3 separate regions of the Homo sapiens genome follow, and all the other regions are reported to be linked to region 3. Evidence: microRNA targets listed by miRTarBase, many of them from high-throughput screens and not tested one by one. Region 3 holds a microRNA gene; each other region holds the end of a gene's coding sequence.
What was found. The annotated mature microRNA hsa-miR-4764-5p reads UGGAUGUGGAAGGAGUUAUCU and lies in region 3 at 2,159-2,179, opposite strand. An mRNA with a match to its seed (bases 2 to 7 or 8) in the 3' UTR can be bound and repressed. Matches are read on the target gene's strand: a 7mer-m8 pairs with bases 2 to 8, a 7mer-A1 pairs with bases 2 to 7 and ends in A, and an 8mer does both.

Region 1: the mRNA of KLHL25 is a reported target of hsa-miR-4764-5p. The part of its 3' UTR that is shown has no 7-base or 8-base seed match.
Region 2: miRTarBase lists SUMO2 as a target of hsa-miR-4764-5p. Seed matches in the 3' UTR shown: 7mer-m8 at 3,477-3,483.

The regions. Positions count from the first base shown.
Region 1 is chr15:85,764,456-85,768,686 of GRCh38, reverse strand. It overlaps KLHL25 (kelch like family member 25), which reads left to right. Exons shown (of 3, transcript NM_022480.4): 2 at 1-670. The coding sequence ends at 646. Among named protein-coding and RNA genes, the nearest start is that of MIR1276, 4.0 kb to the left of the region's middle. RefSeq lists enhancers at 1-126, 127-901, 3,833-4,231.
Region 2 is chr17:75,164,769-75,168,999 of GRCh38, forward strand. SUMO2 (small ubiquitin like modifier 2) reads right to left here. Exons shown (of 4, transcript NM_006937.4): 4 at 818-3,633. The coding sequence ends at 3,571. Among named protein-coding and RNA genes, the nearest start is that of JPT1, 12 kb to the left of the region's middle.
Region 3 is chr22:33,434,482-33,438,712 of GRCh38, forward strand. It overlaps MIR4764 (microRNA 4764), which reads right to left and starts at 2,188; the gene lies at 2,101-2,188. The region is part of intron 6 of LARGE1 (LARGE xylosyl- and glucuronyltransferase 1); the gene reads right to left. RefSeq lists an enhancer at 3,367-4,231.

The DNA.
Region 1 (4,231 bases), not on the chromosome of region 3:
GATTGCCCGCTTTGGCCATGGCTCAGCTGAGCTGGAGAACTGCCTCTATGTGGTGGGGGGACACACATCCCTGGCAGGGGTCTTCCCGGCCTCGCCTTCTGTCTCCCTGAAACAAGTGGAGAAATACGACCCTGGGGCCAACAAGTGGATGATGGTGGCCCCCTTGCGGGATGGCGTCAGCAATGCCGCAGTGGTGAGTGCCAAGCTGAAGCTCTTTGTTTTCGGAGGAACCAGCATCCACCGGGACATGGTGTCCAAGGTCCAGTGCTATGACCCCTCGGAGAACAGGTGGACGATCAAGGCCGAGTGCCCCCAGCCTTGGCGGTACACAGCCGCTGCCGTCCTGGGCAGCCAGATCTTCATCATGGGAGGTGACACGGAATTCACAGCCGCCTCGGCCTACCGCTTTGACTGTGAGACCAACCAGTGGACGCGGATTGGGGACATGACTGCCAAGCGCATGTCCTGCCATGCCCTGGCTTCCGGCAACAAGCTCTATGTGGTCGGGGGCTACTTTGGGACCCAGAGGTGTAAGACTCTGGACTGCTATGACCCCACTTCAGATACATGGAACTGCATCACCACAGTGCCCTACTCACTTATCCCCACGGCCTTTGTCAGCACCTGGAAGCACCTGCCCGCGTGAGGAGCACCTGCTGAGCCCAGCCAGGTGAGTCCCTGGCAGCCCACGGCCACTCTGGGTCCGGAAAGGTCATGGGGGAATGCAGTCCCACCTCTTCCCACTGGGTGAAGGTCACCGTGTCTTCCAGGGAAGTCTGGGTGGGCAGCAGGTGGCTGGTGTGCTCTGGAGTCAAATCCTGGCTCTGCCTTCTATTTGCAGTTAACCTGGAGCAAATTATTGAACCAGTCTGCAAAATGGGGACAGTAACCATGGTTAGACCAACATGGTGGTTCCCAAACATGGTTATACTTCAGAATCACCCAGGGACCTTTTGACAGTGCTGTGTGGAGCATAGGTCAACCTGCAGAGTCTGAGGGTGCAGTCTCCACACAAGCCTGCTCTTACTTTTGACACCAGGTGCAACAAAGGGGGCCTCCCAAACCACCCTCGGTCAATTTTGCCAGAAAGACTTATAGAAGTCGCTGAAGGCTGTTATGCTCACAGTTACAGTTTATTATAGGGGAAAGATACAGATTAAGATAAGCCAAGGGAAGAGACATGTACTAAGGCAGAGTCCAGGAGAATGGCCCCCTCCCCATGGAGTCAGGACAGTGTTACTCTCCTGGCACTGATGAGTGATGATATGTATGAAGATTGCCAACCAGGCCCGGGCATGGTGGCTCATGCCTATAATCCCAGCACTTTAGGAGGGCTGAGGTGGGCAGATGGCTTGAGCCCAATTCAAGACCAGCCTGGGCAATGTGAAAGTCAGTCCTGGCCGGGCACAGTGGCTCATGCCTGTAACCCCAGCACTTTGAGAGGCCGAGGTGGGCAGATCATGAGGTCAGGAGATCGAGACCATCCTGGCTAACAAGTGAAACCCCATCCCTACTAAAAATACAAAAAATGAGCCAGGCATGGTGGTGCACACCTGTAATCCCAGCTACTTGGGAGGCTGAGGTAGGAGGATCACTTGAACCTGGGAGACAGAGGCTGCAGTGAGCCAAGATCATGCCGCTGTACTCCAGCCTGGGCAACAGTGAGACTCCGTCTCAAAAAAAAAAAAAAAATGATCGCCAACCAGGCATGACATCCATGTCTAAATGGTGGAGTCCTCCAAAAAACTGTTAACTGTAAACACCAAAGCCTGCATGGTGGGAACAGACAGCCTTGGTTTGAGTCCTGTTTCTCCTGGGGGCAGCTGTGTGCTCACCAGCATGCAAGGGATGGGGAGAAGTCCTTCCTCGAAGCCGGCAGGCGTCTAGCTTAAGCGAGGTCATCCTTGAGGGCCTTGGAGCAGGGCTTCCTGCAGAGCGAGTGTCTGTGGGTTGCTGCCACACTGTCATTGTGTGGAATCGCTATGAAAACAGGTGACACGGAAGGCACTCTGTGGGAGGTGATGGTGGGACAGAGACACTGGGAGCAGTTTGAGCCAGGCCCTGCAGACCCTGCAGTGAAGGGAAGGAACGGGCGGGAGGAGTGTCTCATCTGGTGCTGGTTTAATCTCCTGAGAAGCTGAGCTGGGGGCGGGGTCTTCCCGCAGCAAATAGGGGCAGGATCGGCATGAGGTCCTGCCACGAGAGAGGGTATCCCGGCCAGCCTGGCAGGGTACTGGGGTAGATGCCAGAGAAGGGCTTTGTGCCCAACACACCCTCTGTGTTTAGGGCCTGGGAAAGGCCAGGGTGCGTGCCACTAGCCCTTGGCCATTCTCCCGGCTCATGCTGTCCTGGGCCCCTCACCCCTGCAATAGGGGCATAAGATCCCTGGGTGCACTCTGCCTCCAGCACAGGACGAGACTGTGGAAGATGAGCTGTCCTGCCGGAGGGAGCCCAGCCGCTTCCCACGATCCTGCAGCGCTGGGTGGTGGCAGTGATCCCCACGTGTGGGCTCAGCTTCAGGTCATAGGAACCCTTTCAGGAGCTGGCCCGAGCTAAACATTAATTTCCTCAGTGAGCCAGCGGCTGCTGATACAAATGCTGAAAGCTCTACCCAGTGAAGGCAGTCATTCTTAGCTGGGATTGCTTCTCAATGGAAGCTGATGGCTCAGCCTCTAACTCAGATCCAGCCAAGCCTTCGAGTCCCTTAAAGGGACATGGTGGCAGGCAAGGAGGGCCCAAGCATAAGCATCAAGTTGGTGAACACAGGGTGTTTGGGCTCACAGAGGCCAGCCTGAATAGGAACACCAGTTTTCTTTTTTCTTTTATTTTTCTTTTTTCTTTTTCTTTTTTTTTTTTTTGAGACAGTCTCGCTCTGTCACCCAGGCTAGAGTGCAGGGTACGATCTCTGCTCACTGCAACCTCCACCTCCCAGGTTCAAGGAATTCTCGTTCCTCAGCCTCCTGAGTAGCTGGGATTACAGACGTGTGCCACCGCATCTGGCTTGCTTTTTTCTTTTACAGCTTTTCTGTTTTCTTCTTCTTCTTCTTCTTCTTTTTTTTTTTTTTGAGACAGTCTCGTTCTCCCCCAGGCTGGAGTGTAATGGTGCGATCTCTGCTCACTGCAACCTCTGCCTCCTGGGTTCAAGCGATTCTCCTTCCTCAGCCTCCTGAGTAGCTGGGATTACAGGCATCTGCCACCATGCCCAGCTAATTTTTGTATTTGTAGTAGAGATGGGGTTTCACCGTGTTGGCCAGGCTGGTCTCAAACTCCAGACCTCAGGTGATCCACCCGCCTCGGCCTTCCAAAGTGCTGGGATTACAGGTGTGAGCCTTCGTGCCCGGTCTTCTTTTTTTTTAATCTGCTGTCTTTAGAGAAAAATCAGACCTGCCAAATTTCTTGATTCCCTGAGGAGTGAGATTCCAAGAGGATACTGGCATCTCCTCATTAATTCCCTGTTGCTATCCTCTAGGTCATTTAGAAACCTGGGGAATGTCACCTGTGGGAAATGGAGGCCCCTCCCACCCCAGGCCAGCCGGGCTGGGCAGTGTGAGGGGGCCCATGCTGCTGGCCTCAGGCAGCTGAGACCATCTCTGGTCTGAGCCTCCAGACCAGAGGCTGCCCCCTGCCTACCCTCCAGGTCAGAGGCTCCCTCCCACCTGGCCCTGCCCTGTCAACTGGACCTGGTGAACCATGTACTCTCCCAGGAATTGCTCTGATCCCAGGGACCCTGGAAGGAGAGCATGCATGGTGTCTTGGTTGTGACTTTTTGGCTGCTTCACCCTGGACTGGCTACTTGATTCCCCTGAGGCTCAGCTTCCCCATCTGGACAACGGGAGTGGAAATTGTATTACTCATAGCACTAGAATAGAGATCAAGTGATTGCCAGTTTCAGAAGCAGCTTAAAAGGGGTAGCGATGGAGGACAGGGAGATGCTGATGCTGATGGTTTTGGGGTGCTGTGGGCTGCAAGGGCCTCTAGATGTCTCTGCTTAGCCCCTCCCTCTGAAAGGCCTGTCCACCCATGACTGCTGTTCCTCAGCAGGCACTTGCCCTGTGCCCACTGGAGTCCTCCTCAGTCTGTAATGGGATTGCTGTCATCAGCTCCATTTAGGGATGAGGAAGCGGACACACAAGACTGAGCCAGTCCCAGATCTGATGGGGAAGCTACTTCCAGACCCTGTCATCCCAGAGCCATGTCCCCAAGGCGTTCTGGGCTGTGTGCTTCCTTGGCT
Region 2 (4,231 bases), not on the chromosome of region 3:
GTGAGTCAAGATTGCGCCACTGAACTCCAGCCTGGGCAACAGAGTGAGACTCCATCTCAAAAAAAAAAGTAAAATAAACAGGGCGCGGTGGCTCCCGCCTGTAATCCTAGCACTTTGGGAGGCCAAGGTAGGCGCATCACCTGAGGTCAGGAGTTTGAGACCAGCCTGGCCAACACAGTGAAACCCCGTCTCTACTACAAATACAAAAAAATCAGCCAGGCATAGTGGTGGGCGCCTGTAATTCCAGCTACTTGGGAGGCTCTGTCTCCAAAACCAAACAAACAAAAAAACCCCACAAATTTTAAAAAAACAAGCTGGTGGCACTGTACATATAGGAAAATTAGTCTAGCTGATTCAAGAGTAAAATTCATACATATACAAACATAAAGAAAAATCTACTGCATTCCTGTTGTCACTGGCAATGCTCATTTGCTATAGAAACAGGGAATGTAAAGAGTGTATCAAAACAAAGGTACAGCAGCCGGGCGCGGTGACTCACGCCTGTAATCCCACCACTTTGGGAGGCTGAGGCGGGCAGCTCATGAGGTCAGGAGATCGAGACCATCCTGGCTAACACGGTGAAACCCCGTCTCTACTAAAAATACAAAAAATTAGCCGGGCATGGTGGTGGGTGCCTGTACTCCCAGCTACTCAGGAGGCTGAGGCAGGAGAATGGCGTGAACTCGGGAGGCAGCTTGCAGTGAGCCGAGATCGCGCTACTGCACTCCAGCCTGGGCAACAGAGCAAGACTCCGTCTCAAAAAAACAAAAAACAAAGGTACAGCAGATTAAGAGAAATAACACATAATACTACATGGTGACTTGATGGTAGATTATATTGGTAGGTTGACAATCAGTATGGACAAAAACAATCAACAAGCATTAGGATACTATCTCTAGTCCCAGTTTTATAGTCACCGTCTATTTCACAACTTTTCTGGAACTTGGCTTTCTCATCTATAAAATGGCAGTGAGGCCGGGCGCAGTGGATCATGCCTGTAATCCCAGCACTTTGGAAGGCCAAGGCGGGTGGATGAACTGAGGTCAGGAGTTTGAGACCAGCCTGGCTAACATGGTGAAGCCCTGTCTCTACTAAAAATACAAAAAAATTAGCCGGGCATGGTGGCGGGCACCTTTAGTCCCAGCTACTGGGGAGGCTGAGGCAGGAGAATGGCGTGAACCCGGGAGGTGGAGCTTGCCGTGAGCCAAGATTGCGCCACTGCACTCCAGCCTGGGCGACAGAGCAAGACTCCGTCTGAAAAAAAAACAAAAACAAAAACAAAAACTGTAGTGGTTGGGCATGGGGTCTAACACCTGAAACCCCAACACTTTGGGAGGCCAAGACAAGGGACTGAGGCCAGAAGTTCGAGACCAAACTGGTCAACATGGTGAGACCCCACCTCTAATTTAAAAATAATAAAAATTTGGCCGGGCACAGTGGCTCAAGCCTGTAATCTCAGCACTTTGGGAGGCCAAGGCAGGCAGATCACCTGAGGTCGGGAGGTGGAGACCAGCCTGACCAACATAGAGAAACCCCTTCTCTACTAAAAATACAGAATTAGCCAGGTATGATGGTAGATGCTTGTAATCCCAGCTTTTCCGGAGGCTGAGGGAGGAGAATCAGTTGAACCCGGGAGGCGGAGGTTGCAGTGAGCTGAGATCATGTCATTGGTCTCCAGTTGGGGCAACAAGAGCGAAACTCCATCTCAAAAATAAACATTTTTAAAAAATTAAAAAGGGGCTGGGCATAGTGGCTCACGCCTGTAAACCCAGCACATTGGGAGGCTAAGGCAGATAGATCACTTAAGATCAGGGGTTTGAGCCCGGCCTGGACAATATGGCGAAACACTCTCTATAAAAAATACAAGAATTAGCTGTGGTGGCATGCACCTGCGGTTCTAGCTACTCACGAGGCTGAGCAGGGAGGATCTCTTAAGACCTGGAGGTGGAGGTTGCAGTGAGCCAAGATCACACCATTGCACCACTCCAGACTAGGCAACAGAGGCATAACCTCTTTCAAAAAGACCTAAGACGGGAGGCTGAGGCAGGAGAATGGCGTGAACCCGGGAGGCGGAGCTTGCAGTGAGCCAAGATTGTGCCACTGCACTACAGCCTGGGAGACGGAATGATGCTCCATCTCAAAAAACCACCACCAAAAGAAACCCTAAGAAACAAAAATTAAAATAATAAAGACTGTAGTGACCTGTATATTTAAGGTTCTGAGGATGGATATATATAGATATTTTCTGTCCCTCAATATTCTTGAATAGGCCAGGCGTGGTGGCTCATGCCGTAATCCCTGCACTTTGGGAGGCTGAGGCGGGTGGATCACCTAAGGTCAGGAGTTCGAGACCAGCCTGGCATACGTGATAAAACCCTGTCTCGACTAAAAATAGAAAAAAAATTAGCTGGGCGTGGTGGCATGCACCTATGACCCCCCAGCTACTCAGGAGGCTGAGGTTGCAGTGAGCTGAAATTGCACCACTACACTCCAGCCTGGGCAACAAGAGGAAAACTCCGTCTCAAAAAAAAAATCCTTGAATAAGGAACGAAAACTTTATTTTAGGTTAGGGAGTATTTACTTATGATAAGTGCAGGCTAGAATGGTTCAGTGTTTTATCAGCAACAAAGGCAAAATCAGAACTTTTTCCTTGCCACATGTGCTACCCTATACCCTATGCTCCGTGCCTCACTTAATATACAGAAAATACCTGGAAATCCACGATACTATGGCCCAATTTTTCTGCTAGTATACTTGCATATTAACATGGGACCTAGAGAAACTTTTGGAACAAGGTGATATTTATAAAACTGTTATTCTTTGTTTGGCATCAGTATCAGTCTGTCAGAAACACCAAGTAGCTTTATTTCCTTCTTGAAATGTTACTTCTAAGCAGGCCTATTTATGTTTTTTCTAAGCCTCAATTTTCTATTTAATATTTCTCAGAATAAAGAAAACAGCTCATTTTAAACAAGAAGTTTATTTAAACAACAAGACGCTTGACTTGAAGGGAAAACTATCTAGGATTCTTTTTTGTTTTAGAGTAATTTATCCCTACTTAAAGACAGATTGCCCTACATGTAACAGCTACGTACAAAAAAGTTATAAAATTGTCCTTGGTTTTACAATGATAAATGAAAAACATTAAAATTCTCCAATTGAACAAGGTATGCAAGGATTTTTATGTTGTTGTTTTTTTTTTTTGTTAAAACAGTGAGAGCAAAATAACTTACTGGAATATAAAGATAAGAGCTGAATGAGCATGCCACTAATGGAGAAAGGGGGTATTTTCACAGAATCAGTATTTTTCCCCATCCCGTCTCCACTTGATGTCAATCAAAACATACCATTGGCTGTTTAGTTAAAAAAAAAAAAAATGCAATATGCTTGTGCACATATACCAGTTACTTTATGTACAATAAAGGAATGGGGAAGGGGGAAATGAAAGAATAGAGAAAACTATACGGTAGTAGTCAGGATGTGGTGGAACCAAATTGCAGTTTTCTAATTGAGAATGTAATCTTGGTCTTTAAAGAACAGAGTTCTGGAGTAAAGAAGCAGGTTCCCTTTTCAGTAGACACCTCCCGTCTGCTGTTGGAACACATCAATTGTATCTTCATCCTCCATTTCCAACTAGCATAAAAGAAAAAACAAATGTAAAAGCACTGATTAAGTTCTGAAAATTAATGATTTTTGGGTTTAAGTATGCTGAAAACATGTACATGTTCCACTAAGTTCCAAGTTTCATTATTTTAGATGTCTCATAGCTTAATGTATCAACACACTTGGTTTAAGTAATTTTTCACTTGGCTTCCTTTTTTATGACTATTAGATAAAACTTTTTTGTTTTTTTTTTGAGACAGGATTTCTGTCACCCAGGCTGGACTGCAGTGGCGTGATCTCAGCTCACTGCAACGTCCACCCCTCAGGTTCAAGCAATTCTCCTGCCTCAGTCTCCCAAGTAGCTGAGATTACAGGCATCCGCCACCATGCCCAGCTAATTTTTTTGTATTTTTAGTAGAGATGGGGTTTCGTCATGTTGGCCAGGCTGGTCTCAAACTCCTGAGCTCAAGTGATCTGCCTGCCTCGGCCTCCCAAAGTGCTGGGATTACAGGTGTGAGCCACTGCGCCCAGCCAAAACTTAGTTTTTGAGTAAAAAGCAGAATATTAGCCAGGTGCGGTGGCTCATGCCTGTAATCCCAGTACTACTGGAGGCCAACATTGGAGGATT
Region 3 (4,231 bases):
GTAGAGACGGGGTTTCACCGTGTTGGCCAGGATGGTCTCGATCTCCTGACCTTGTGATCCGCCTGCCTCGGCCTCCCAAAGTGCTGGGATTACAAGCGTGAGCCACTGCGCCCAGCCTGGGAAGGATCTTTTATTGAATTTAGGGGGTCCATCTAAATTTCAGGTAAGGTCATCTTCAGATATCTGAAAGGCCAAATTTTATATGGTGGCATCCCATACATTTTATTTTGCCTGTTTACTTCTTCAGACAAATACTCTACGAGCTACACTTTATTCCTGCCAAACAAAAATATTTTGTTGCCTGTGGTCTAATTTCTACCTTGCTCATATAGCTCTCCCTTGGCAGGCATTGCCCTTGCCCCCCCTGCCAATCCCCACCCACAATCCTTTCAAGGTCCATCTCCAGCATGAAGCCTTTTATGAATAAGCCCAAGTCTGAACTATTACTTTATCTTCATTCCCATATTAGATGGAAGACATCACTATTTAGTACTTCCTACTGTTTTTTGTTTGTTTGTTTGCTTTGTTTTGTTTTTTGAGATGGAGTCTTGCTCTGTCGCCCAGGCTGGAGTGCAAATGGCGCCATCTCGGCTCACTGCAACCTTCGCCTCCCGAGTTAAAGCGATTCTCCTGCCTCAGCCTCCTGAGTAGCTGGGATTACAGACACCTGCCACCATGTCTGGCTAATTTTTGTATTTTTAGCAGAGACAGGGTTTCGCCATGTTGACCAGGCTGATCTCGAACTCCTAACCTCAGGCGATCCTCCCACCGCAGCCTCCCAAAGTGCTAGGATTACAGGCGTGAGCCACCATGCCTGGCTCCTACGGGTATTTTGCCAGCAGCTGACTTACACTCCATAAAAGATGAAGTTGGCAATATTCAGGCACCCACAGACCTCATTTATAAATAACCACTTCCTGCATTATTCCAAGGGCAAGATACTACAAGGTGTAGTACTGAACACACAGTAGGTGCTTAATAAATGTCTGCTAAATAAATGACATCTAGTGGGTTAACCTTCCTGATCGGGTGTGTGTTAGTGTCCTCATAAATCATTTCACCCTCTCTGTAGTCACCAATATTAACAGACCTTCCACCCAGCTCTGGGAACTCAGGCACCCGCTCCCCTGTATGGAAAACTGCAAAGATGGGGAGGCAGCACCCACTTGGGGTGCTCTACATAAGGCTTAAACTCAAGGTCTTCATCTCCAGAGAAGGAATGATTTTCATGGTTAACCTAAAGTCACGTTATCCCAAAGAATAATATCCAAATTGCTCTTCATTCAGTTTGTACCTGGGCTGCATTGCTTTTGATAGTACCACTTAACCCTCTCAGGCACGCCAATCCTCTTAAAAAATTCCTTAATTAGCAACATGATAGTTAGAACTTTAATATCCATTGGTGAGAAAAAAACAGAATAATCAGCAGCTACTGAGACTTCATTTTGCTTTTTAAAAGAAATTCATTAGCTGCCATATCAATGATCAAAACAGTAGTAAGGGTAAGCGATGTTGCTTAGCCTCTCAACGGTGTTGAGTTTTGCTTTCAGGCTGTGCCTTCCCAGCTTCTGTGTGAAGAGGGAACCATGAACATCAATATAGTTGGAGATAAAGAGTGTGGACTGAACTCAGGCTGCCTGGTTCCGGTTCCTAGCCCTGCCACCTTCTAGCTGCGTAGCCGTGAAAAAAATTGCTTAACCTATCTCTGCCTTGGTATCTAACTCTTACAGCTGCTGTGACTTCACATGCTGGAATGACTTCATACATGTTAAGTTCTTAGAACAGAAGCTGGAACTCTAAGCACTGTACATATGATAGTCACTGCCTATCCTAACCCGAAAGCCCCTGATAGACAGCAAGCTTATCCATGAGGTTTTCTTTGGAGGTCATCCAGCACAACCATTAGGCCATTCTCGAACTCTGCCTCTCTAAGTGTGGTCTGAGGACTATCTGTTTCAGAAACCCCTGAGATTCTTGCTAAAAGCACAGGCTCCTGGGCTTCATTCAACCTAGAAGTTAGTTATTAGTGGGAGGATGCTTTCCCCTACTTCTCCGGTTTCTAGAAGGAGGGATTTCTTGACACCTTGAGCCGATCTTTTCTCTTCCCCATGGGTGTGAAAGGAGTTAACTGACTGGTGACAGTTATCTGACTGGTGACAGATAACTCCTTCCACATCCATGGGGAAGAGAAAGGTGAGTTTCAGAGGCAACCAAGTTGATGTGGCCTAGCCTCTTCCTCTGTCCCTTCTTCCAGGAGCCAGCATGCCAACAGATAGCCTGCATCGAATCTGTTCTTTCACGCTGTTAAATTTTATAGAGCAGACCTCCTCTGTGAGGCTGTGGTTGTCTAGTACTTCTTGGGATAGCTGAGCAATTCCAACTCTGGGTTTTGGTGCTAGGAAGAGCCATTGTAGATACTGAAGGACTCTAAAGTTGAGTCCTCCAATTTCACCTTTATCAGTAAAATAAGGTGACATCTGGCTCTCCCTCCTTTATCTCTAAGTTGGTTCAATATTGGCAGGGGCGGGGGTGGTGCATATGGGGAAATAATATATTAATTCCCTCACTCCACAATATTTCTGCATAAGAATTCTGGCCACGGGGTCTAGTAATTTGCATTGAAATAAACCAACTCCCCAGGTAATTCAGATGCACATTAAAGTTTGAGAATTACTGATTGGAGTTTGGAAGCTCCGTTACTGCTTTAGTCAAGGGTAAATTTCACCTGCAGGGTGACTGGCACATAATAAACTCACATGGTGTCTACATTCACCTCATAAACCAGTAGAATTCATTGGTAGTCTCCAATGCCATACTTCCTGAGTACAGTAAAGTGGTGAAGAAAATGAACACCAGAGCCAGACGCCTGGGCTCAAATCCTGGCTCTTCCACTTACTAGCTATGTGACCCTGGACAAGGTACTTAGCCTCTCTGTGCTTGCTTCTTCATTCACTTGTAAAATAGAGATAGTAAGTAACATACCTAATTTTTTTTTTCCTCTAAGCACAAGTTAATTTGTGAAAATGATGCTGTGTTTTGTGCTTATTCAAACATTACCACTAAAAGCGTCGATGAAATAGTAAAGCGTTCAGTAAGCATTTGCTCTTATGGAAGCACCCAGAACTCCCTGGTCCTACACTCTGCTCCATCTGCCTGGACCTCCAGCTCAGCCATCTCCTCCTGTCCTTAGCTGACATGGCCCTTAGTTTGCTGAGACGTTGGTTCAGCTTAGTATCGATTGAGGGTTTGAGTTGTGTCAGACACCACACAAAATACTAAGGAATGAAAGACAAAAAAAACATAGTTCTTGCCCTGGGGGCAGCTAGAAGAGGAGACAGATAAACAATTTTGAAGCAGCATGATATTAGCAGTGACAGGGCGATATTAGCAAGATGGGGGAATAATAAGTAGGGAGTAATTGATTCTGTGGGGGTAAGTGGGTGATACCTGCTAGACAAGTTGGATGTCTCCCTTCCCACCGAGTCACCTACCACATCCCTTCCAGCACTGCAGCCAGGCCTCCCCAAAAGCTTTTCCAATAAGGGTTCTGTCGGGTAACACCCTTCTAGGAGAGAAGTCCCCTCTGCTACCAGGTGACAGCATGGATGATACAGGTGATCTGTGACAGTTCCAGCAATCCCAGCCCATCATCCAGGTGGCATCTAAATCCTGGTCTCCAGAGGCCCAAGTCTACAGCTGTAACCTTGATGGTGCAAACACATCTTCAGCTTGCCATCGTGTGAAGAGGTAAAATCCCAGGGGATTCCTTGGGGGAGATGACACAGGTGGCTACAGGGTGCTGGCTTGCTCAGCATTCTGCACTGCCTGTCTCGTCTTCTTGGGAGTTATTGTAATAAAACACTGTGACTCACAGAAAACGCTTTGTCATTGTTTTCCAAGCTGGGCCTGTGGTTATGATTAAGTGCGCTGTTCTCCATCTTCCTTAGTCTAGGCACAAGTTAACTTATGAAAATGAAGCTGTCTTCTTTGCTTATTCATACATCACTACTAACAGTCAGACAAGAGCGAACAAGCTTGCTTTTCTGCTGGGGCCCTGGTGTTGGTGTCACCAGCCAGCAGATGGATGGCTCTACGCAGGGAACTCTCCTCTCTTCTTCCTTCTGCAGGTTTTGGCTCAAGGCCCGGCTCCTGCTGCTCGGGAGGTGAGAACCAAGGAGCAGAGAACTACAATTCTTCCACACAGTGCATCTGGCATGAAAAGGCTGAGCTG